Linked DNA regions of Homo sapiens: region 1 is linked to region 2. The links come from fine-mapping of genetic effects on gene expression. A gene starts in region 2. The other region holds a variant in brackets. All regions are shown on one strand. Distances are from middle to middle.

Region 1 (12,184 bases), 230 kb after region 2:
CCGGGAGTCAGCACAGTCCAGGGCCTCTAGCTTGGCCTCAGCTCTGGCCATCGGTGCCACCTCAGGGACGGCTCATGCCCATTGGCCCCACTCCAGCCTTTTATGGGTGCCTGGCTTGACCAGTGGACACTGTTCTCAGATGGCTTCTCGTGGGTCCCCCGAGTCCCCTGAAGCTCCTGACCCTGCCGCCCCAGCGTGGCCCTCCGCTAGTGAGTGGGCCTGACTTGCCCAGGGCCCTGGTCATAGCCTGCCCTCTGCCCTCCAAGGCCCTTTTCTTCTGTGCAGCAGAGGGGCCAGACACTGCATAGGGTCGGCGCCCTTCAGCCCCAGGGCCCCGGAACCCCCTGCCTTGGAATAGCCTCCTGGAGCCTCCTCCTCAGCCTCTCCCCTCCTTTCCCCTTAGCCCCAGTGTGCAGCAGCCCAGGTCAGGGCCCTGAGTGCCTGGATGCCCCCTGCCTCCCAGTGTCCTGCATTACTTCTGGAGGCTCAGTCACCACAACCTCACCCTCCCAGCCCTGGCCTGGCCTTCTCGGCCACCAGCCCACCTCCTCCCTCTCTCCAGAGCTTCCCCCGGCAAGGTCCCTGCTGGGCTCAACCCAGGCCCCCCAGCACAGGTAGGAGCCTTGCACCTGCCCTTGGCCCTCCCCACCCTGCGTGGTGCCAGGACCCCCAGGCCACAGGGAGGCCCCATTTCTCTCTGCCGCTGGCCCAGTGGCCCTGGAGTCCCACTGCAGGTGGGGTGTGCCCCTGACCTCTGAGGAGGCTAAGTGCCCTGCCCTCAGCCAGGCCATCCCCTCTGCTCAGCCCCAGGGCCCCGCTCACCACCCCTTCCCCTCACCTGCACCACAGGCTCTGGCTGACTCTGCCCAGGCCCTGAATGGGCCCCTCTGGCAGCCCTCTGCTGCTACACTGCCCTGCACCACCTCCACTCAGCTTCATTGTGCTGGTGGCCCTGGCTCCTGGCAGCCCATCTTGCTCCTTCTGGGGCGCCAGCCTCAGAGGCCTTCCTGCCTAGGGTCCGCTGGGGCCAGCCCTGGGACCCTCCTGGTCTCAAGCACACATTCCCCCTGCAGCCACACCTGCCCCTGCCTGAGAGCTCAGCCCCGAGCCCTGGAATGCCTTCCCTTCTCCATCCCAGCTCACCCTTGCCAACTGCTCAGTGGGATGGGCTCACACTCCCTTCCTGGCACCAGGAGGCTGCACTGCACTTTCACCAGCCCTCAGCTGTCTGCTGCCAGCAACTACCCAGCTCCTGCCAAAATCTAGGAGCTGAGTGATGCCTCCCACCGGCCCTGCTCACCTGTGGTTGCCTTGCCCTGAGCTCTAGTGCCTGTCCCCTGCTCGTCCTGCCTCCCACCGGCCCTGCTCACCTGTGGCTGCTCTGCTCTGATTCCCTGAGGCTAAGCCTCAGTCCTGCTCACCTTCTGATGCTCTCCTCTGTCCCCTGAGCTCCAGGGGCTGTCCCCTGCTCGTCCTGCCTCCTACCTGCCCCTGCTTACCTGAGGGTGCTCTGCCCTGGTGCTCTGAGCTCCAGGGGCTGTCCCCTGCTCCTCCTGCTTCCTACCAGCCCCTGCTCACCTGTGGCTGCTCTGCCCTGGTCCCCTGAGCTCCAGGGGCTTCCCCCTGCTCTTCCTGCCCCCACCAGCCCCTGTTCACCTTCAGATGCCCTCCCCTGGTCCCCTGAAGTCCCAGAGCTGCCCCCTGTTCCTCCTGCCTCCCACCAGCCCGTGCTCACCTGCCGCTGCTCTGCCCTGGTCCCGAGTTCCAGGGGCTGCACCCTGTTCGCCCACCTCCCACTAGCCATGCTCAGCTCTTGATGCTCTGTCCTGGTCCCCTGAGCTCCAGGAGCTGTCCCCTACTCGTCCTGCCACCCACCAGCCCCTGCTCACCTGAGGCACCTGAGGCTGCTCTGCCCTGGTCCCCTGAGCTCCAGGGTCTTCCCCCTGCTCATCCTGCCTCCCACCTGCCCTTGTTCACCTTCAGTTGCTCTGCCCTGGTCTGCTGAGCTCCAGGAGGTGCCCCCTGCTCCTTCTGCCCCCACCTGCCCTGCTCACCTGTGGCTGCTCGGTCCTGGTACCCTGAACTCCAATGCCTGCCCCCTGCTCACTCTGCCCTCCCTCAACCCGGGCAGCAATGTCACTCAGGTCACTGTTGCCCCCCTGCCTGTCCTGGCACCCTCTGTCCAGGTTTGGGCTGTTTTTCTGGCCTCATTTTTGTTTTTGCAGCACTTGGCTTGTTCCCTATGCTGTGGAGCAGCCCCAGTGTCCAGTCAGGTCTCCCCAACAGAGCCCCTTGCCCTTGCCCATGTGCCCCTCCTGGGTGAGCTCCCAGATCCTCCCGTCCCTGCACTGCTCCTGCTCTGGAAGCCTCTCCAGAACCTCAGCTCCTCAGTGGCCTCTGCTCTGCTGGGTCAGCTCCCTGAACGCACGGAGCCTCACCCCTCCCCTCGCCCCAGGCCTGCTGCACTCTGGGCCTTTCTGGGCCTCCCTGGACTCTTCCCTCCTCCCATCTGTGCACTCAGCACAGCTCTCCCCTCCACTCCGCTGCTGACCACAGCCCTGCTCCCCGCCAGCAGGTGCCCCAGCGCCATCAGGTGGCTCTGAGCCTAGCCCCTGTGCCTCCCCTGTCCCTGCCTCTGCCTCTGGGCTCCTTGGCTTCCACCCTCCTGTCCTGCTGCCACACTCACCCTCCCTGCTCTGCTCCCGGCTCACCTGCTGTCCTTGGTCCTGGCTGAGAGAGGGCCCCACGGCCAGCACTGCTGACCCTGCCCTGGGCTCCAGTGATGCTGCTGGCCTGGACAAGCCCCTCCGTTCACCTGGGGCCTCTCCTCCTCCCTCGTTCTACTGCCTCCTCAGCTCAGGTGGGTCCTGCCCATGCTGGCATCACCCCACGGCCGGCTCTGCCGCATCCCGTCAGGTTCCTCGTGCTCCCAGCCTGGTCGTCATGGAGGCCTCAGTCAGCCTCTGGTGTGTCCTGCCCTGTTGGCTTGGAAGCCCCTGCCCACGGTCCCCGTCATCTTGCACTGGGTGGGCGTTGGTGCCTGAAGGCTGCCCACCTCCCCCGTGCTGGCTCCGCTTGGGTCTCCATGTGGGGCTGGCCTTGCCCCCACGTCTCCCCAGCCTCTTGTAGCCTGTTCAGCAGCTGAGGTCCAGGAGCGCCCACGGCTGCACCCAGGCTCTGTCCTTCTCCTCCCGAGCCTGTGCCCTTGCCCTGTGCTGACCCTACTCACCGAGGTGGGGGTCTCAGCCCTTCCTGTTTTGGCGCGGTACATGTGGGCAGACTTGCCCACGCCGTCAGCTGCTATTTGTCTTCCTAGGAAATCACAGCTCGGCCCTCAGGTCCCCAGGGGTGTGAACTCCACGCTGCAAAGACTAAGAACAGGATTGAAACCGGCGGCACCGCTTACTTCCTGAAGTTCCCTTTTCTTCTGGTGGTTTCTGTGTCACAGGGTAAGGGGGAGTCCAGACACAGCCGAGGCTGCCTCATGGGTGTGTGGGGATGGGGGTGGTGGCTGCCCCCATACTCGTGGGAGAAGGTGGGGAGCCCGGACCTTGTTCACTGCTCTTTTCTCTGTCTCTGAGTCCCTGGGGCTGGACTGATACTGGCAGTGATTATGACCATTCTGCCCGTGGTCTCAGCCTCTCAATACCTGGGCCTCTCACCTGAAGCTTCTGACCCCCACTGGGCCCTGGTGGCTGCTTTGGCCTGGGCGTCTCTCCAGCTGGCTCTCACTCATGGTGCAGGGAGGGGAGTGTGAGTTCATCCCGCTGAGCAGCTGGCAAAGGCGAGCTGGGATGGAGAAGGGAAGGCGTTCCAAGGCTCAGGTCTGAGCTCACAGGCAGGGGCAGGTCTGGCTGCAGGGAGAATGTGTGTGCTTGAGACCAGGAGGGTCCCAGGGCTGGCCGAGTGGACCCTGCACAGGAAGGCTTCTGAGGCTGGTGCTCCAGAAGGAACAAGATGGGCTGCCAGGAGCCAGGGCCACCAGCTGTGCTCCTGGGGGCCGAGGGGACGTGGGACAGGTGGATGAACACACTGAAGCTGAGTGGAGGTGGTGCAGGGCAGTGTAGCAGCAGAGGGGAGCCAGAGGGGCCCATTCAGAGCCTGGGCAGAGTTGGCCAGAGCCTGTGGTGCAGGTGAGGGGAAGGGGTAGGGGGCAGGGCCCTGGGGCTGAGCAGAGGGGATGGCCTCTGCTTAGCTTAGGGCACTTAGCTTCCTCAGAGGCGAGGGGCACACCCGAGTTGCAGTGGCACTCCAGGGCCACTGGACTACAAGCAGAGAGAGAAATGGGGCCTCCCTGGGGCCTGGGGGATGCTGGCATCATGCAGGGTGGGGAGGTCCAAGGGCAGGTGCAAGTCTCCTACCTGTGCTGGGGGAGCCTGGACTGAGATCAGGAGGGACCTTGCCAGGCCGAAGCTCTAGAGAGAGGGAGGAGCTGAGGAAGGACGAACGTGGAAGTGGGAGGTAAGGGGGGATGGTATGAGGCCAGAGGGACTGGGCAGACCAAAAGCCCGAGGAGGTGTCGCACAGGAAGTGTCCAGAATGGAATAGGAAGTGTCCGGAATGGAAAAGGAAGCATCCAGCATGGAACAGGAAGCATCCAGAGTGGAACAAGAAAGGTCCAGCATGGAAAAGGAAGCATCCAGAGTGGAATGGGAAGCGTCCAGAGTGGAACAGGAAGCATCCAGAATGTAACAGGAAGCATCCAGAGTGGAACAGGAAATGTCCAGCATGGAACAGGAAGCATCAAGAATGTAACAGGAAGCATCCAGAGTGGAACAGGAAATGTCCAGCATGGAACAGGAAGCATCCAGAATGTAACAGGAAGCATCCAGAGTGGAACAGGAAATGTCCAGCATGGAACAGGAAGCATCCAGAATGTAACAGGAAGCATCCAGAGTGGAACAGGAAATGTCCAGCATGGAACAGGAAGCATCAAGAATGTAACAGGAAGCATCCAGAGTGGAACAGGAAATGTCCAGCATGGAACAGGAAGCATCCAGAATGTAACAGGAAGCATCCAGCATGGAACAGGAAGCATCCAGAGTGGAACAAGAAACGTCCAGCATGGAACAGGAAGCATCCAGCATGTAACAGGAAGCATCCAGAGTGGAACAAGAAACGTCCAGCATGGAACAGGAAGCATCCAGCATGGAACAGGAAGCATCCAGCATGGAACAGGAAGCATCCAGAGTGGAACAAGAAATGTCCAGCATGGAACAGGAAGCATCCAGAGTGGAATGGGAAGCGTCCAGCGTGGAACAGGAAGCATCCAGAGTGGAACAAGAAACGTCCAGCGTGGAACAGGAAGCGTCCAGCATGGAACGGGAAGCATCCAGAATGTAACAGGAAGCATCCAGCATGGAACAGGAAGCGTCCAGCCTGGAGCAGGAAGCGTCCAGTGTGGAGCAGGAAGTGTCCAGCGCGGAACAGGAAGTGTCCAGCGTGGAAAAGGAAGCATCCAGCGTGGAACAGGAAGCATCCAGAGTGGAACAAGAAACGTCCAGCGTGGAACAGGAAGCGTCCAGCATGGAACGGGAAGCATCCAGAATGTAACGGGAAGCATCCAGCATGGAACAGGAAGCGTCCAGCGTGGAGCAGGAAGCGTCCAGTGTGGAACAGGAAGCATCCAGAGTGGAACAGGAAGCATGCAGAGTGGAACAGGAAATGTCCAGCATGGAACAGGAAGCATCCAGCATGGAACAGGAAGCATCCAGCATGGAACAGGGAGCATCCAGAGTGGAACAGGAAATGTCCAGCATGGAACAGGAAGCATCCAGGATGGAACAGGAAGCATCCAGTGTGGAACAGGAAGCATCCAGAGTGTAACAGGAAACATCCAGCGTGGAACAGGAAGCATCCAGCGTGGAACAGGAAGCATCCAGCGTGGAAGAGGAAGCGTCCAGCATGGAACGGGAAGCGTCCAGAATGGGCACTTTGAAGGGAAATCATGTCCCTCCCACTAAATGTGCTCTCCACAAGGACCCGGCCTGCCCTTGTGACCCTGCTGGATCCCTGAGCTGGCACCAGCCCTGCCCTCAGAGAGAATGTCCAGGAGACAGGTGGAGGTGCACGTGTGGGTCCCTGGGGAAATCCATCCTCCAGCCGCAGGCTCCCAGTCGGCTCCCAGCCTCTCGTTCCAGCTTCACCCCATGGAGCTCATAATGGGCTCAACCTCCCAGGCTGGGGGAGGACGGAGTGAGGGGCCCCCCACTGCCCATGGCACACCCAGGGGGCTGGGGAGTCTGCACTGGGCTGGGGCAGGGAGGCCTCGTGCAGCCTGTGGGGCTGGCAGCTCAGGACAACACTCGTATCCGTTAACTGTGGCCCTGGCAACACTGCACCCCAGACTGCGTGGCTTAAACAACAGACGTTTATTCCGTCCTGGTTCTGGAGGCCGGGCATCTGGGATG[G/C]AGGCCTCGGTGGGGCTGGCTCCTCTGTGTCATGGGAGACTCTGTCCCAGGCTCTCTCCTTGCTGCTGGGCTTTGCCGGCCGTCTCTGGTGCTCTTGGCTTATGGAAGCAGCACCATCTTCACAGGGCGTTCTCCCCACGTGCTGTCTGTGCCCAGATTCCCCCTTTTCATGAGGACAGCAGTCATATTGGATCAGAGGCTTGCCCTACTCCAGGGTGACCTCATCTGAACTTGATTGCAGCTGCAAAGACTGTTTCCAGACAAGGTCACATTCTGCGGTCCTGGGGGTTAGGACTTCAACACATGAATTTATAGGGGACACATTTTAACCCATGACAGTTTGCCCTCCGTTCCCCCCATAATCATGTCCTTCTCACACGCAAAATCCCTGCATCCCATAGCAACATCTCCAAGATGGCTAACCCCTTCCAGCACCAACTCTTAGTCCACAATGTCAGAGAAACATCATCTGCATCAAGTGTGAGAGAAACCCAGGGTGAGATTAGGAGAGAAACCACAGCGGGGTGGCGAGCCTCCTGCCCCCTCCGGCCCAGGTGAGGCCGTGTGCACTGTGTGGGTGTGCCTGGGGCTCCACTTGCCCCTCCCATGTACCTGCTCATTTTCCCCAGGCTGTGGGCATTTGGGGCAGGGGCCTCAGTGCCTGGTCGGCTCTCTCCCGGTTCTATCCAATGCCCCAAGCTTGCTGGGCTGGAGGGGCCGGGCAGCGTGGGCCCCCAGGAAGGAGGATGGCTTCCCAGCTGGGGCTCCATCTCTGGCCTCTGCCAGCCTTGAGATCTCCGGTCATCTGTGTCTCCCTCCTGGGGCCCAGCAGGCCTGCTCAGCTCTGAGCCCCATGTCCGTTCTCACCCTGCTCTGCTTTTCCTTGGGGTGCTGGCCCTGCCCTGGCCTCCACAAATGGCCCCTGCCCCCACCCCTTCCTGTCTGAGGGGCTGGGCTGTTCCTCTCCTGCCCGGCGTGTGCCCACCTAGGCCCAATAGGCATAGTGCCCCCAGCCCCTCCTGCCCTCTTCTGGCCTTCACGCCCAGCCATGCCGGCAGCCCGCCTCAGTGGCCTGGGCCTTCACCAGCTCCTGGCTCTGTGTCCAGCTGCCACTCCTGTGGCCCTACGGTGCTGCCCCTTTCCCTCAGTGATGGGGGCTGGGCTTCCTGGGAACGGGCTGTGTCTCAGCTGCACACACCTGTGTGTGTCAGTGTGCGCATGGGAGTGCGTGTGTGTGCTGGGGGTGTGTGCAGGAATGCTTGTGTCTGGGGGCAGGGGGAGCATCTGCCTTCCTGCCCCAGGCCTGGAATGGCCGTGCCAGGGTGGGTGGGAGCAGTGCGTGCGAGGACAGTGCTGCTTTGACGTCTGCGTGTGGCTGGTGTGGGCGGGAGGACGTGGTGTGGCACGAGTCTCGGGCTCCCCATCTCCATCCAGCTGATCCCGGATGGCTGCGCTCCTGAGGGTTTAGAGCAGCCCAGGGGGTCAGGAGGCTGTTGGGACGCTGGAGGCAAGCGCTGGCAGGGATGGGGGTGGGCTGGCCAGGCAGCGTGGCCAGGGGGCTTCGAGCCGGGGCAGTGAACCATCCCCCAACTTTTTAAAGTTTTAAAAGTCATATTTACTCAAGTGTAGTTTACATTCAGTATAATCCATCCTGTGACATGTAAGTTTCAACAAATGCACAGTCATGCAACCACCACCGTAATCCAGATGAACAGTTGCAAGAAGATGTAGAATCTCTCCAAAAATTCCACCAGGCCCCTTTGCAATCAACGCCTCCCTGATGGCTAGGAATCCATTGATCTGCATTCTGTCAGAAGACTCAGAGTTCATCATTAAAATGATCTATTATGGAAAATATTATAAGCATACAAAACACAAAACCAAGTTTTAAAAAGTGAGGTATTTCTTAAAAGTTTAGTATACAAACAAAATGAAGGTACCTTCACATTTTACTACAGATGTGCAGATAGTTTTCTTGGTGCACAGAGATAAGGCAGAATTAAGTCAGAATAAACGTTCTAAAACTGACCTCCGGAAGAACTAGTCTTAGTCATTTCTTTGCAGAGTATGTGAACCAAGATTCGGGTTTGGTCTTTGGTGTTAGCACTGTGTCAAGGATCAGATAGAAAGTACAAATGGAGGGGCCCCTTTCTGAGGCCAGGCCCCACTGTCGGGGCATGTGGGGTGACCAAAGGCCAATACCAGCTGAGGCTAAGAGGCTGCTCTCAGAAAGGTAGGTTTGCAGGTGTCTCTTGAACCCTTTGTTCAGAACCGGGACGTGTGGCTGGGCAGCAGCCTTCAGAATCCCCACAGGCTGGTGCCCGGTGCCCACAGCCCTCTCGGGTTGTCAGGACCCTGCACCCGTGGTGGGGTGCTGGGCTCCAGAGTTCCCTGGGACCAGCTGATCTCTTGTCCTTGGTTTTGGCCCAAATGCAAGCCCCTGGTCTCCTCCAAGTAACTTCCTTTCCCCAGGGCTGTCCAGGCCCCACCGCTGCCTGTTCCTTCCCAGGGCCTCCCGCAAGTCCCGATGCTGACGCCTCTCTGCCCACCTAGTTTGTGGCCGCCGCCTCCAGCTCTGTGTCTGCCTCCCAGCGAGGGAGCCGTGGTTGATGATCTCGTGAGTGTCTGCCCTTCTGAAGGTACAGTGTGAAGTCTCATCAGTCTCACTTCAATGCCTAAGCACCTCTTCAGAAACCAGGGATTCATCCAGGTTTCTCCATCTTTAACCATGTTTTCTAAAAGTTTTCTTGGCAATTTCCTGGCAATTTGCAAGACAGGATTTTTTGGTTGCCAACTTCCAATTAGCTTTAAACTTGCCACGATCTCCCAGGTCATCCCGTCCATCGATGATGCTTATTACATTCTTCCTGATTTCCATGTGGCCAAATTCAATAGTTATTTACCCCAGGCTTGTATTTTGGAGGCTAAAGAACTCTGTTACCAGCTATATCCGTGCTGTGGCTGCCGTAACAAAATATCACAAATGTGGCTTAAAACAACAAAAATTTTTTCAGAGTTCTGGGAGTCAGGAATCTGAGATCAAGGTGTTGGTGGCTGTCTCTGAGTGCTCCAGGGGAGGACCGTCCACCTCTTCCAGCTTCCTGTGGTGCAATAGTTTGGATGTGTGTCTCTCCAAATTTCATGTTGAGATGTGATTCCCAGTGTTGGAGGTGGGCCTGGTGGGAGGTGATTAGATCATGGGGCTGGACCCCTCATGAATGGCCTAGCACCATCTCCCAGGTGATGAGTGAGTTCTCCCTCAGTTAGTCCCTGTGACAGCTGGTTGTTTAAAAGTCTAGGACGTGCCACTTCTCTTCTCTTGCTCCCTCTTGCCATGTGACATGCCTGCTCCCCCTTCGCCTTCTGCCGTGATTGCAATCTCCCTGAGGCCTCGCCAGAAGCAGATGCCAGGGCCGTGTTTCCGGAATGGCTGCAGAACTGTGAGCTAGTTAATCCTCCCTTCCTTGCCACAGTGCCTGGTGCAAACCTCTTTTCTTTATAAATTACCAGATTCATGTTTTTTTTTTTTTTCTAGTAACACAAATAGACTAACTCAGAACATTGGTATTGAGGAGTGGAACATTGCTATAAGGATACCTGAAAATGTGGAAGCAGCTTTGGAATCAGGTAACAGGCAGAGAGGTTAGAAGAATTTGGAGGACTCAGAAGAAGACAGGAAGATGAGGGAAAGTTTGGAATTTCTTAGAGACTATTAAATGGTTGTCACCAAAATGCTGATAGACATATGGACTGTGAAAGCCAGGCTGATGAAATCTCAGATGGAAATGAGAAACTTATTGGGAACTGGTGTAAAGGTCACGCTTGTTAAATCCTAAGAAACAACTTGGCTGCATTGTGTTCATGCCCTAGGGATCTGTGGAAGGTTGACCTTAAGAGTGATGACTTAGGGCATCTGTGGAAGACATTTCTAAGCAGATGTTTCTAAGGTGTGACCTGGTTGCTTCTAACAGTCTATGGTAAGATATGGGAGCAAAGAAATGACTTAAAGTTGGAACTTATATTTAAAAGGTGTAAACGACAAAATAAAATGCTAATCCAAGGGGATTCCAAAGAAACCTGGAAAACCAGTTCAGGCCATGACAGGAAGGGGAGGGTGGTTTGGACTCCCTCACTATACCCTCTCCCTGTTGGAGCTTAGGCTCAGCTGACCAGTGTTAACATTAAAACAGGGAGCTTAAGACTGACAAAGCAGACTCTTTGTAGCAATAAGATATCAAATCCCAACCTGATTCTGGTATAGCATCACATGACAGGTGGCAGGCATGGAAGGAAATTAAAGTATTTTATGCCAGAATATATTTCTCTGACACATTTTGGAAGGGCCCTGCAAAGCCGTCTCTTGTGGAGGAAATGTATATTCTGTTGAGAATCTTTTTCCCTTTCCAGGTCTCTTCCTGATTCAGGAGAGATTTATCCAAGAGTCTGGCACCTTTTAGGTTCTGATAAGAGACATTGACCATCTCTTCTCTCTGGAACGTGGAGGCTTCATCTACATAACAAGAAACTTGGCTTCCACAACCCCCTTATCTTAAGCATTGCTTTTTGCTGACTTCAACTTTTTAGATAATTTAACTTTTTCAGCCAATTGCCAATCAGAAAATCTTCAAATCCACCTATGATTTGGAATTCCCCACTTTGAATTGTCCTGCTTTTCCAAACCAAACCAAACCAATGTATACTTTACATGTATTGATTGATATGTCTCCCTAAAACATAAAAGCAGGCCGCAACCCAACCACCTTGCACAGGTGTTCTCAGGACCTTTTGAGGCTGTGCCACAGTTCATGGCTCTCACATGTGGCTCAGAATCAATCTCGTCAAGTGTTTTATGGAGTTTGGCTTTTTTCATCAACAAAGGGAAGCAGAGCATAAAAAATGTGGAAAATTCACAGCCTGGCCATGTGGTAGAAAAGAAAAGGTATTTTCAGGAGACAAATATAAGTAGGCTATGGAGCAGCCAGTTGCTAGAGAGATTAGCATAACTAAAAGGGAGCTAAGTGCTCATATCCAGAACAAAGGGAAAAAGGCCTTGAAGGCCTTTCGGAAATCTCTGAGGTGGTCTTTCCCATAACAGGCCCAGAGGCCAAGAGGGAAAGGATGGTTTTGTGGGCCATGCCCATGGCCACTGCTGCCTGTGCAGCCTTGGGACACTGCTCTCCACATCCTGGTTCCTCTGGCTCCAGCCTTGGCTCAAAGGGCCCCAAGTACAGCTTAGGCTGCTTCTTTGGAGAGTGCAAGCCACTATAAGCCTTGGGAACTTCCATCTGGTGTTAAGCCTGTAGGCCCCCAGAATGCAAGAGTGAAGGAGGCTTGGCATCTTCACTCTAGATTTCAGAAATGTATGAGAAACCCTAGGTGCCCAGAGAGAAGCCTCCTGCCAGCATGGAGCCCTCACAGAGAACCTCTACTAGAGCAGTGCCAAAGAGAATGTGGGGTTGAACCCCCATATAATGTCCCCACCAGGGCACTGCCTAGTGGAGCTGTGGGAAGGGGGCCACTGTCCTCCAGACCCCAGAATGGTAGATCCACTGGCAGTTTGCACCCTGAATCTGGAAAAGCCACAGGCACTCAACTCTATCGTGTGAGAGAAGCCACAGGGGCTACATCCTCCAAAGCCACAGGGGTAGAGTTGTCCAAGGCTTTGGGAGCCCACCCCCTGCACCAGTGTGCCCTGGATATGGGACATGAAGTCAAAGGAGATTACCTTGGAGCTTTAAGATTTAATAACTGCCCTGCTGGATTTCTGACGTGTA
Region 2 (12,184 bases):
AATGTCATTTGGTGCACCCTAGGGATCCTCTGCATTTCTCAGGAGCCCTAGGGTAGGTGGATGGAGGGCAGATCCTCCAGGGGCTAGGGCAGGTGTCCTTAAGGGTGTGGGGAGTTTTGGGCAGGGCACTGTCCTTAAGGGTGTGGGGAGTTTTGGGTCATGACCCACCCCCTCTGAGGCCCCTGATGATGATGTGGGGAATGGGATCCTATGGGCCCAGCTGCATGCCAGGCAGGCATCCCCAGGTGTAAACAGGGCAGAGCGGAGCTGACAGGTAAGCAGTTGCCATGGGGGTGATGAGCTGGGCAGTCCTCTGTTGCTGAGTGGCTTTAAAGAACCACTCGTTGTTCTGTGACTTGGGGGTTGGCTGGGCTCATCCTGCCAGCTCTCCTGCTCTCGTTTGAGTGTCTCCTGAGGCTGCAGTCAGAGCGTGGTGGTCCAGGATGCTGGTGATGCTGGGATGGTTGCCCTCTCTGCTCCATGAGGTCTCCCTACAGAGCACCTCCCCCATGGTGGCAGCAGAGACAAAACCCTGGCCTCCTTCAGGCTGAGGCCCAGAGCCAGTCTCCTGGTGGGTAAGGTGGCCACAGGGCCAGCTGGCAGCAGGGTATTGGCACTGAGAGGCACAGGCCTCTCCAACAGAGGTGGTGCCGGGACAGGGGCAGTGCCTGGAGACCGCTTAGGTTGTCACAACTGGGATTTGTGTACTAGTTTTCTGTAGCTGCCATAAAAATTGCCACAAATTCAGTAGGTTTGGTTTCTTTTTCTTTTTTCTTTTTTTGGTGGTTGGGGCGGAGCGGGGGGCAGGCTTGCTATGTTGCCCAGGCTGGTCTTGAACTATTGGACTCAAGTGATCCCCCGACTTTGGCCTCCTGGGTAGCTGGGACTGCAGGTGCATCCCACCACACCCGGCCTTTATTTTTTTTTTTGTAAGTTTTTATAGAGAAACAGTCTTGGTATGTTGCTCAGGCTGGTCTTGAACTCCTTGACCCAAGCAATCCTCTTGCCTCGGCCTCCTGAGTAGCTGGGGTTACATGAGTGTTCCACTGGTGCCTGGCTTTGAGTGTTTTAAAACAACACAAATGTATTAGCTAAGTTTTGTAGAAGTTCAAAATGGGTATCTTTGGGCTCAGAATGAGGGGTTGGCAGAGTTCTGTTCCTTCTGGAGGTGCCAGGGGAGACCCTGTTTCCCTTTTTCTAGCCTCAAGAAGCCACCTGCATTCCTTGGCTGGTAGTTGTGGCCTCCTTCGGAGCGGCCGAGCCCCTCTCTGCCCTGCCCTTCTCTGCCCACCTCTCCATTGCCTCCCTCCTGCACCCTGAAACACACTTGTGGCTACGCTGGGCCCACCCGGAAGATCCAGGGTCGCCTGCCTGCTTTCGGGTGAACTGGTTAGCCCCCTTCCTAACCTGCCACTTAACCCAGTTAACCCAGCCTGCTCCAAGGTTCTGGGGATTTGTACACAAGTATCTGTGAGAGGGGCATTCTGCCTTCCACAGGGGCTGCCGGCACCTGGTGGGCAGAGGCGGCGGCGCTGTGCTGCTCAGGATCCCGCAATGCATGGGCAGCCCCAAACCATGAGGGCCCGGCAGGAAACCCGGGGGCAGAGGAGGGTGCGTGCGGCGGGAGCGCATGTGAAGCCCACCTTGCAAGGGGAGGGGCGCGCTCTTCGCGGGACGGCAGAGGGAGGGTCTCTGAGGCGCGTGGAATCAAGGGGACAGAAGAAGCAGTCTCGGGAGTGGGAAGGATCCTGGGAGGGGAGTGGGAAGGATCCTGGGAGGGGAGTGGGAAGGATCCTGGGAGGGGAGTGGGAAGGATCCTGGGAGGGGAGTGGGAAGGATCCTGGGAGGGGAGTGGGGATCCCCCGAAGTCTCGCAGCAGTAGTGTGGTGCTTAGGCCGTCGCCCCGGCCGCCACTGCGCCTCCCCACCCGCAGGCCTCCGCAGCGCCACGGGCGGCCGCGCGGGGTAGCGTTTGGGGGCTCCCGGGGACGCGGTCTCCGGCGCGCAGGTCCGCCCAGGGTTGGCCGCGTGGTCCCCCGGGCTTCCCACGCCCGATTCGAATTGTGACTCCGGCTGGCTCCGGACCGAGCCGAGGACGCTCCGGCACCACAGCAGGAGCCGCGCGGGCGGGGGCGCGGGGCGCGGAACGGGGCGCGGGGCGCCTGGGAGATGTAGTTCGCGGCCTTCCCCGGCGCACCAGACAATGCCCGACGCGGCCCCGCTGGAGAAACGCCTTCCTTGGCTTTGCAGAAACACCGCTTGCTATTAATACAGCAACGAATACAGCTTTAAAAACGCGCCCAGTGTCCTCCCTGGAATAACAGCTGTTAACATTACCTAAAGGTTATCCCAGATATTTCTAAATGTATATGGGGAGATAAAAGGATGTAATGGAAATACAGAAATACGTGTCGAGTTGCTACTTATAGACTTTTAAATATTTAAAGAAAAAAATTGCTAAAAGCAGATGAATGCTTCTTCACCTCAAGTTTAAAAGTCTCCTTACGATGGCCGGGCGCCGTGGCTCAGGCCTGTAATCCCGGCACTTTGGGAAGCCAAGGCAGGCAGATCGCTTGAGCTCAGGAGTTGGAGAACAGCCTGGGCAACAAAGGGAAGCTCCATCCATACTGAAGATACAAAAATCAGCCGGGCGTGGTGGTGCTCTCCTGTAGTCCCAGCTACTTGGGAGGCTGAGGTGGGAGGATCGCTTGAGCTCAGGAAGTCGAGGCTGCAGTGAGCCGAGATAGGCCCACTGCACTTGAGCCTGGGTGACAGAGTGAGACCCTGTCTCCAAAAAAAAAAAAAAAAAAGTCTTCTACGATTATTTTTAGAAATTACAAAAACATCAAGAGATGAGTGTGTTTGGTTTACAGCAGCAAAGCACGGTTCGGCTGAGGCGGCACCGGCTGACTTCTGCCTGTGAATGGTGAGGAACTGGCACTGACATTTCCATATCCCCTGGCAGGGCATTTCTTACCAGAAGATCAAGGCTCACCGCCAGTATTTGACCCACTGAAAGTCTTTGTTTTGATTTACATCTTTACTGGCTGGACTTAAGATCAGTTTTTGTTGTTGTTGTTAGACAGGGTCTTGCTCTGCCACCCACGCCGCAGTGCAGAGGTGCTATCTCGGCTCACTGCGAACTATGCCTCTCAGGCCTAAGCTATCCTCCTGCCTCAGCCTCTCAAGTAGCAGGGACTACAGGCATGCACCACCACGCCCCGCTAATTTTTATATTTTTCAGTAGAGATGGGTTTTCACTATGTTGCCCAGGCTGGTCTCAAACTCCTGGGTTCAAGTGACCTGCCCAAAGTGCTGGAACTTCAGAGCCAGAGCCCTGGTTTTATACACTTTATTATGTTCCCCTCCCTGCTAGATTGCAAACCCTCTGAGGGCAAAGGTGCTGTTTCCTTACCCTCCAAGGCCTAGAGTGGCCTGTAGCTTGAAGTAGATGTTTAACAAATAATCAATGAGTAAATTATTGTGTTAATCACTTTGTCTTGCTCTGAAATTATCTCAAGCCTTTCATCTCCAAGTAACTTGATATTCTGCCCTTTGCTGTTTATGACTTGATCCAGCCACGGTGCGATTTTGGTGCTTCCGGTTTGCTTGGCTCTTAACTCTTCCTCCCATCCTGCTGTTTTGTCGTCAAGCATTTGAATTCCTGATTGTTGAATTCATGCTGCTATGAAGCTCTGAAAGAAGTCCTGTGGAGTCCTCTTCTGTTTCTTTGGTTGCGTTTTCTTATTTATTTATTTATTTATTTATTTATTTTTTATTTTTGTTTCTTTGAGACGGAGTCTCACTGTGCCGCCCCCAGGCTGGAGTGCAGTGGTGTGGTCTCGGCTCCTGGGTTCATGCAATTCTCCTGCCTCAGCCTCCGGAGTAGCTGGGACTACAGGCACGCGCTACCACACCCAGTTAATTTTTTTGTATTTTTAGTAGAGATGAGGTTTCACTATGTTGACCAGGCTGGTCTCGAACTCCTGACCTCAGGTGATCCTCCTGCCTTGGCCTCCCAAAGTGCTGGGATTACAGGCGTGAGCCACCACGCTCAGCCCAGTTGTGTTTTCTTCCATACTGGGTTTCTCACCGGCCCCTCACACCCTCGATGACTTGTTTTTCTGTTGTTGAATGACATGGATGTGGTCACGTGCCACCTCTCAGCAATGCTCCCACCTCAGCCTCCGGGGATATGCCACTACTTCTGTAGTGCTTTCTGACGTGAAAGCTCTTTCCTGAATGTCTATTCGCTCTGCTACTAAGTGGATGGAGTGGATGGATTTTTTTTTTTTTTTTTTTTTTGGAGACGGAGTCTCGCTCTGTCGCCCAGGCTGGAGTGCAGTGGCATGATCTCGGCTCACTGCAAGCTCCGCTTCCTGGGTTCACGCCATTCTTCTGCCTCAGCCTCCGGAGTAGCTGGGACTACAGGCGCCCGCCACCACGCCCAGCTAATTTTTTCTATTTTTAGTAGAGACGGGGTTTCACCGTGTTAGCCAGGATGGTCTCGACCTCCTGCTCGTGATCCTCCCGCCTCAGCCTCCCAAAGTGCTGGGATTACAGGCGTGAGCCACCGCACCCAGCTGGATTCTTCTTAATTCTTTGTTTTTATTGTTTGACTCACCTGAGGTCTTTGGACTTTGCCTCTGAGCTGGCTTAAGGGCAATCCACCTTGTTCACTGGTCTGGAGTGGGGAGGCAGAGTATGGGTCGGCTGGAGGAGTGGGGCTCTGTGCTCTCTTTTGAGAGTTTACTAAACGTCACTCTGCATGGTGAGGGGTGTGTCCTCTCCGCTGGGGAGGCCTGGCTTGAATTTCAGATTGCCTCCCTGGGACACCAGACCCTGTGCTGTGCTCCCTCAGAAGGACAGCCTTGACTGTCTCCACTCCAGCAGTCAGTTCTCTCCACTCCCACTGGGAGAAGGAGCAAAGGCTGGTGTCTTCAGGAGGCTCCTCTCCAGGCTGGGGCCAGGGAAGAGTGTGCATGTCACTGTCAGGATGTGTCCCAGTGGTGTGGCTGGGTTCTCAGGGTGAAGCTCGTCCATTTCTGGGATGGCAGCGGAAGCAGGCACTACACACGCAGCTTCAGGGGGCTCTCCCCATGCTTCCTAGCTGCCTGGCACTTTCTGGTGTTTCTGGCTAACTTTCTGGCCATGCCAGGAGTTGGTGGAAGGAGATCTCAGGCTGCAGCTTTGCTTTCCTGCTGAGGAGACAGAGGTAGGCTGGGGCTGTAGGACAGGGGAGGCCAGCAGCCCCACCTTCCTTCTGGAGAGACGCTGCCTGTCTGTCATTGCCCCTCTCCTGCACCTGGCCGCTGGCTGGCTGCTCTTCCCTCCCAATCACCAGCAAGCCAGCTCCTGTTCCCTGCAGCCCAGCCCGCAGGATGTGTCCTGGGACCCATAGCCCTCTCTCCCCAGAGACAGCACCGCCCTGCAGCTCGGGTTCCTGGCCCTGTGCTAACCCTGGTGGGGCTTTCCTTACTGGTCTGCTCTGCAGCCATGACATTGTGGCCACCGCTCTCCTTGGGACCCCCACCTGGCTTTCCTCCCAGCACATGCTGTTTCCTACCCACCTGGATGGTGTCCTGTGTGCTGGATTCCCCATGCTGTGTCCCCAGCATCCTGACCATGTCTGTCCCGCCTGCCTAGATCTTGCACCGTGGCCACGGGGCTCCCTCCTGATAGCCCTGAACGCTCCGCTCCATGTCCTACAGAGAGGGATGTCCCAAGTAGATGTCAGCTCCCTCCAGCATCTGAGCAGGCAGGACAGAGACCCACGGTGCTGCTCACATCAGCAGCCTGGAACCCCGAGACAGCTCCTTTTGCTCACCTCCCCCAACACTGATGTTGCACCTGTCTCCAAGCCACTCTGGGACCATCTGTTTCTCTCCATCTGGGAAGCCCCCTTCGCACCTCATGCTCTTCCTGGCTGGGGCGTCTGGGTCACTCACTGGACTCTCCTCTCCTTAGACCTGTGCACAAGCACACACGGGAAGGCATCCTGACAGGTGGTGGGAAGAGAAGGCAGCTGCCTCACTGCGGAAAGAGCACGGCCGCTCCTGGACTCCAGCCCTGTTGGGGCTGGCGGGGTCAGCAGGCGCTGGGTTCCAGCCTCAGGTGGGGTCTTTGGAGGTGGCCTCTGGGCACAGGCACCTCCTCTGCGGCCTTCTCACCAGGTCACGGTTCAGGGAGGCTTTGCCGGCTACGGAGCCTGCCCACACCAAGGCGCGCACGACCACCTGTCCAGAGATGCCACGCGGGCTGGGCGGCGAAGGCCAAGGACACGCCCTGCCTGGTGTCGGGGGCAAAGGTTAGGCCTGGAAGGGAGGTGTGGGGTGGGGACCCCGAGGCCAGGGCTGGGCCGCTGAGCTTCAGGGCCCTTGGGGGGCTCAGGGAGGAATGCCGGAGGACCCCAGCATCAGGAGGAACCCCTGGAGAGCTACGGCAGGACTCACCTGTGGGGCACAGGGAGGGATCACCAGGGAAATGGCCCTTGTGGAGGATCTCCCCTCTACCCCCAGGGCACCAGGGGAGGATCTACCAGGGGGTTCTGGTGGAAGGGCCCACCCGGGAAGCGGCGCGCGGGGAGGACTCGGGGGCGCCGAGAGGAACTGTCCGGGAAGGGGCGCGCGGGCCGCGGGCGGCGCGGGGTCGGTAACGGCCCGTGCGGTGGGCGGCGGCGCCCGAGGCCCCTCCCCGCCGCCCGCGGCCGCTCCTCCTCTTCCTCTCCCGCCCGCGCCGCGGCCCTCCCGTCCCTGCGCGGCCTCGGCGGCCTCGGCGGCGGCGGCGGCGGCGGCGGCGGCAGCAGCGCGGCCCCTTTAAACGCCTGCGGCGCCCCCCGCCCCCGCCATCGCGCCTCCATTTTCCCGGCCGCCCGCGCCGAGCGCCGCGCCCGCCCCGGGCCCCTCCGCCGCCGCCGGCCCGGACATGGCCGCCAACATGTACAGGGTCGGAGGTAAGGCCGCACCGCCTTTATGCCCGGCCCCGACCCGCCCGCAGCCCCCACCCGCCGCCGCTGCCGCCTCCCCCGCCCCTCTGCCCCGCAGGCCCCGCGCCCCCCGCCCGCCCTCGCGGCCCCCGGCTCCTTCCCGAACCGCCCCCCGCCGTGCTCACCCCAACCCAAAATGGCCCCGCGGGTCGGCCCCATCGGGGGCGGGCGGGGCTCGGCGGCCCGGGGGTGGGGGGCGGCCCACCTGTTGGGGCCGAGGGGGCGGCCGCGGGGGTGGCGGGGGGGCGCGGGGCCTGCGGGACATCCGGGGGTCCGGGGCCGGGAGCCCCCAGCGGGAGCACGTGGCCTTGGGAGGCGCCGGCTGCCGGTCTGGGAGCAGGAGTTTTGGGGCTGTGGGGTCTCCCCCGGCCCGCGGCCCTGTGCTGGGACTCCGGTGCATCCCCTCTGGGGATGGGGAGCCCCGGTGAGGGGCCACGTTCCTCCCTAGAGCCCTCCTGCAGCCTGGCCCCGGGGCTTCCCCCAGCAGGGATCCCTCAGGGGGTCTTCAGCAGGGAGCGAGCATCCCGAGCACGCCTCTAAGTCCCCCCAAACTTTTCCCTGCCTCTCGCTCACCTCAGCCCATTCGGGAGGCGCTTTGCAAGGGTTGGGGAGAGGCCGGAGGGCCTCCTGGGCAGGGGCTTCCTCCGTGGGCCCAGCCTCCTGTTGCTCGGGCCCCCCGGGCCTGCAGCTTTGAGCCTTGCCCTCCTTCGTGTGCCTGGGACTCCGTGGGGTCTTTCACAGGAAGGTGGGGGGTCGTGTGCATTCCATCATTCCATCAGCGCCTCCCTCCCCAGGACTCTGAGACCCCTCCCTGCCTGTGACCCTCTCGGGCAGGTGCTCATTACCTTTCCCACCTGCAGCCTGCGCTGCTGGAGGGAGCTGGGGTCACTCCCGCTCTGGCTTGATCCCCATGCCCCTGACCCCGAGTGCCCAGAACACTCTGTGTCTCTCGAGCGTGGCTTCTGCTGCCTTGGACGCCGTGTGGTCTGGCCGGCCAGTCCTGTGACCTTGGGGACGGTGGGAGCCCCCTACATCCCGTCTGTGAGATGGGCGGTCAGTCCGCATCAGCAGCTCTGGGCCTCCCCTGTCCTCTCAGAGGGGCGGTGGGCCTGTACCCCATCCAGCGGCAGCCCCTCCCACAGCCTCATACAGCTTTGCCAGGTCCCTGTGTGGACCCAGGTGCGCTGAGCCCACCCCACGCTCAGGGAGCAGCCTGGGTGCGGGGTCCCTCGAGGGAGGGGCCTGTTCCTTCCTGTTCTTTCTCCCCACCTGGAGACCCCCCTTCCAGCCTGACATGAGGGCCCAGTTTCTCACCCTGGCAGAGAGGATGCCTGCTGCCTGGGCTCCAGCCGGGCCCACTGCGCATGGTTTTGGGATTGGTCCCAAGAAGAGCTCTCCCTGCCCCCACCCATGTTGGGGGTGGGGAGTGGTGGCAGCTTTGGGCTCTAGGGCTGGGGACACCCCGACCCCAACTCATGCCTTCCTAGTGGCTGCATTGCTCGGCCTTCAGGCCTGCCTGCCTGTGATCTTGGCGCCAGCCTGGCTGCCCCCCCTCCAACCTTCCCATGCCTCGGTTTCCCCATGGTGTGGGTGAGGACCTCGTCTCTCAGCCGTCCTTTTGTGCCCTGTGGCAGCTGTGCTGTGGCTGATGAAAGCCAGGACCCTGCCTTGTCCCATCCCGGAGGTGCAGCTCCCCTGGGCCCCACACAGGCTTGGGAGGAGCCCTTCGTGGGGCTGCGCCGCCCTCCCCGAACCCTCTGTCCCCCTGTGCCCGCAGGCCCGTCCCAGGGCCTCACTGACCCACGCACTCCAGTGCTGTGAGGGTGGGTGGCCTGGACTCCTAGGCTGTGGCGGAGGGGCCCCACCATGCCTGGCAGAGATGCTGCTGGTCTCTTTTCCTGTGATGAGGAGCATGGGAGGTTGGGTGCTGTCTGCTGGCAGCACAGCCACGCGTGGGATCCAGACTGCTTCTGCGTGTGCAGTCCGTGGTCACTGTGGCCGGGTGTGCTCGGAGCTGTCAGGCCCCCCACGTGCCCGCCCCGAGGACTTCCTCTCCCTGCAGGTGAGACTGTAGGCCTCCCCCTCTCTACTCTGACTGTCCCTATAGGAGAAGCGGCATTTATCCCTGGCTTCTGGACCGGAACCCTGGGTTCCGGCAGGACCCCGGCAGAGCCCTGTGGTCGCAGTGGGCTGGGCATTGCAGGTTGGCTTCCTGTCTTGGTGCTCGCTCGGGGAGGTGGGCGTCTGGATTCTTGAGCCCCCAGACAAGAAAGAGGAAGGTGTGCAGTGTCTCCTGAGCAGCCTTTGTCCGTCTGTCGCCGGCTGCCTGGCACGGGCTCCATCTGGGTGGCCAGTCCTGGCCTGTGGGAGATGCCGGCAGGGACCCAGCCTGGGAAGGGGCTTGCTCCTGTGCCCCCCCACCCCAGGGACCTTGTGTGTAGAGGCACCAAATTTAGTTAAGAAAAGTACAGGACGCCCAGGCAAATTTGAGTTTCAGATAAACAGAAATTTATTAGTGTAAGTATGTCCCAAATATGGCATGGGACATACTTGTCCCAGAAGATTCTTATCTGACATTCACAGTTATCTGGGCAACCCGTATTTTAGCTGGCAGGCTACTCCGAGGCCCTGCCAGGTTGGGCTAGGCAGGGTGAAGGTGTGGTGGCAGTATTTTTGTGCCAGCTGAGCTGGGTGAAGTGGTGAGCAGGGAGGGAACAGGGCCTGTTTCTTCCCCATGGAGTGCCCTGGCCACGGACAGAGGCCTTCTGTCTGTGCCTGTGAGGGCAGCGGATGGCCTGGGCAAGGGTGGCGGGGTCAGGGTTCCCTGACCTCTGCTTCTCAAGGGTTGTCCATCCCGAGGGCTGGGGAAGGCTTGAAACCTGCTGTGGGATGAGAGGGCCCCAGGGCAACGGCGGGATGTTTCTTCTCTGGGTTGAACATGAAGATGTTAGATAGCATCCAAAACAGGACAGCAGGAATCGGTGCCTGCCAGCCGCCTGCAGCTTGCTCATGTGGGGCTTCTGCTTTTCAGTGGACAGGCCATTACCATTTTGCCTTGGGTGTTTCTGTTTTTCATTGCAAGAGGTTAACACCCCATCTTTTGGATTTTTTTTGTTTAATTTTTTTTTTTTTTTTTTTTTTGAGATGGAGTCTTGCTCTGTGGCCCAAGCTGGAGTGCAGAGGCGCGATTTCGGCTCACTGCAACCTCCGCCTCCCCGGCCCAAGCGATTTCCTGCCTCAGCCTCCCAAGTAGCTGGGACTAGCCAGGCGCCACCAGGCCTGGTTAAGTTTTACATTTTTAGTAGAGACGGCGTTTCTCCATGTTGGTCAGGCTGGTCTGGAACTCCTGACCTCAAGTGATCCACCCGCTTCGGCCTCCGAAAGTGCTGGGATTACAGGCGTGAGCTCATGCCCGGCCTTTTTGTTTTAATTTTAATAAAAGTTGAGGCTGGGTGACAGAGTGAGACTCCGTATCAAAAAAAAAAAATTTTAATGTAGTTTGAAAGGATGCCAGAAAGCCCCTGCCCCTGCAGGGCCGCGGGCTCTGCCCCGGTCTCTGGCGCAGCCTGGGCGGAAGCACCCTGTCCGTGCTGCTGGTCTTCACTGGGCTTGGCATGTGCCATCATCTGCGCTCTGGCGCGCTGTTAGAAATGTTGCTTTTGTATTTTTATTCTAGTGTTTTTTTGAAGTTTAAACTTTATTGCTCTATATACTTGCCAGTGGGGAAAAAAGTAAACTTAAAAAAAATGTCAGATTTGTAGAGGGCTGCAGCCAGCGCCGCCCTACCCTGGAGTGCTGAGTGCACCGTGTCCCTAGGCACTTGCTGCTCCATGGGCCGACTTTTGGGGTCCCACCCATCTTTTCCAAGAAGGCAGGGAAGAGCCCTGGAGACACGGCCGTCCTGTGAGCACCAGGAGCGGGAGTGGTAGAAGTGGCAGGGGCCCAGGTGTGATGTCCTGGAGGGGATGGCATGGGGCTGTCCCACTTGGCCTGTGAGGATCGGCCTCAGCACTGCGCCATTGGCAGCCCTGGCTCACTCTCCAGGCAGGATGGGCCACTGAGCTTCTCCTGCCTCAGCCACTGAGCACTCCTGGCTTGCTCCACCTTTGTTTTTTTGAGACGGAGTCTCGCTCTGTCCCCCAGGCTGGAGTGCAGTAGCGCAATCTGGGCTCACTGCAAGTCCGCCTCCCGGGTTCACACCATTCTCCTGCCTCAGCCTCCCAAGTAGCTGGGACTACAGGCGCCCGCCACCATGCCTGGCTAATGTTTTGTAATTTTTTTTTTTTTGTAGAGACGGGGTTTCACTGTGTTAGCCAGTATGGTCTCGATCTCCTGACCTTGTGACCCACCCGCCTCAGCCTCTCAAAGTATTGGGATTACAGGCGTGAGCCACTGCGTCTGGCTTTTTTTTTTGTTTTTGAGACAGTCTCACTCTGTCACCCAGGCTGGAGTGCAGTGGCACAATCGCGGCTCACTGCAACCTCCGCCTCCTGGGTTCTAGTGATTTGCCTGCCTCAGCCCCCTGAGTAGCTGGGATTACAGGTGTGCACCACCACACCTGGCTAGTTTTTGTGTTTTTAGTAGAGACAGGGTTTCACCATCTAGGCCAGGCTGGTCTCGAACTCCTGACCTCAAGTGATCCACCCGCCTCGGCCTCCCAAAGTGCTGGGATTACAGGCGTGAGCCACGGTGCCTGGCCCCATATTGTTCTGAGTGGAGAATTTGATCGTTAAGCTCTCAGAATAATAAAAAAGTAGCTGTCAGTGAGAGATGTTGGAATATATGGTCCAATGAAGCACATCCCTCGCGCCCGACCCGCCCTGGCAGTGCCGTTCCCGCCCGTGTGTGTGGGTTCTGGGTGTCAAAACTGCTGCAGTGGCCCTGCAGGCATCCTACCTAGAGGTGGGTCCCCAGCTGCGCATCTGGACGCTGGTCAGCAGGTGAGGCTGGGATGCCAGAGGAGGTGCCGTGTGCCTGGCCAGGTACCCGGGAGGCGGCTTGGGGGAGCACTGGCTGCAGGGCCTCCTTCCTCCTCCTGCTGAACTTGGAGTGCTCTTGCCAGATTATGGGCTGAGTCCTGCTAGGGAGGGTGGCCCCCCTTCCCCAGGAGGAGCCCACCCTGAGACCTGGTTGGGGGGCAGCTTAGACCCTACCTTAGACTCCAGCAGGCTGTCTTGGGAGCATGTAATTATGTTTTTTT

Direction of the effects. Positions count from the first base shown, and alleles are read on the strand shown. Sizes are in standard deviations (SD) of each study's normalised expression.
In carriers of allele G in region 1, the expression in esophagus muscle of the gene that starts at base 6,627 in region 2 tends to be lower than with C alone (moderate effect, 0.56 SD a copy in GTEx).

What was found.
Region 1: its variant is fine-mapped to the expression of MTA1-DT in esophagus muscle (GTEx, PIP above 0.99).

The regions. Positions count from the first base shown.
Region 1 is chr14:105,645,097-105,657,280 of GRCh38, forward strand. It overlaps IGH. Among named protein-coding and RNA genes, the nearest start is that of MIR8071-2, 11 kb to the left of the region's middle. The variant G/C (reference allele first, on the strand shown) is at 6,411.
Region 2 is chr14:105,413,113-105,425,296 of GRCh38, forward strand. It overlaps MTA1-DT (MTA1 divergent transcript), which reads right to left and starts at 6,627. Exons shown (of 2, transcript NR_125385.1): 1 at 5,910-6,627; 2 at 4,469-5,197. MTA1 (metastasis associated 1) reads left to right here and starts at 6,715. Exons shown (of 21, transcript NM_004689.4): 1 at 6,715-6,951. The coding sequence starts at 6,924. TEX22 (testis expressed 22) reads left to right here. Exons shown (of 4, transcript NM_001195082.2): 4 at 1-747. RefSeq lists silencers at 1,834-2,243, 6,279-6,378, 6,409-6,458, 6,549-6,808 and enhancers at 4,912-5,581, 8,260-8,927, 8,928-9,597.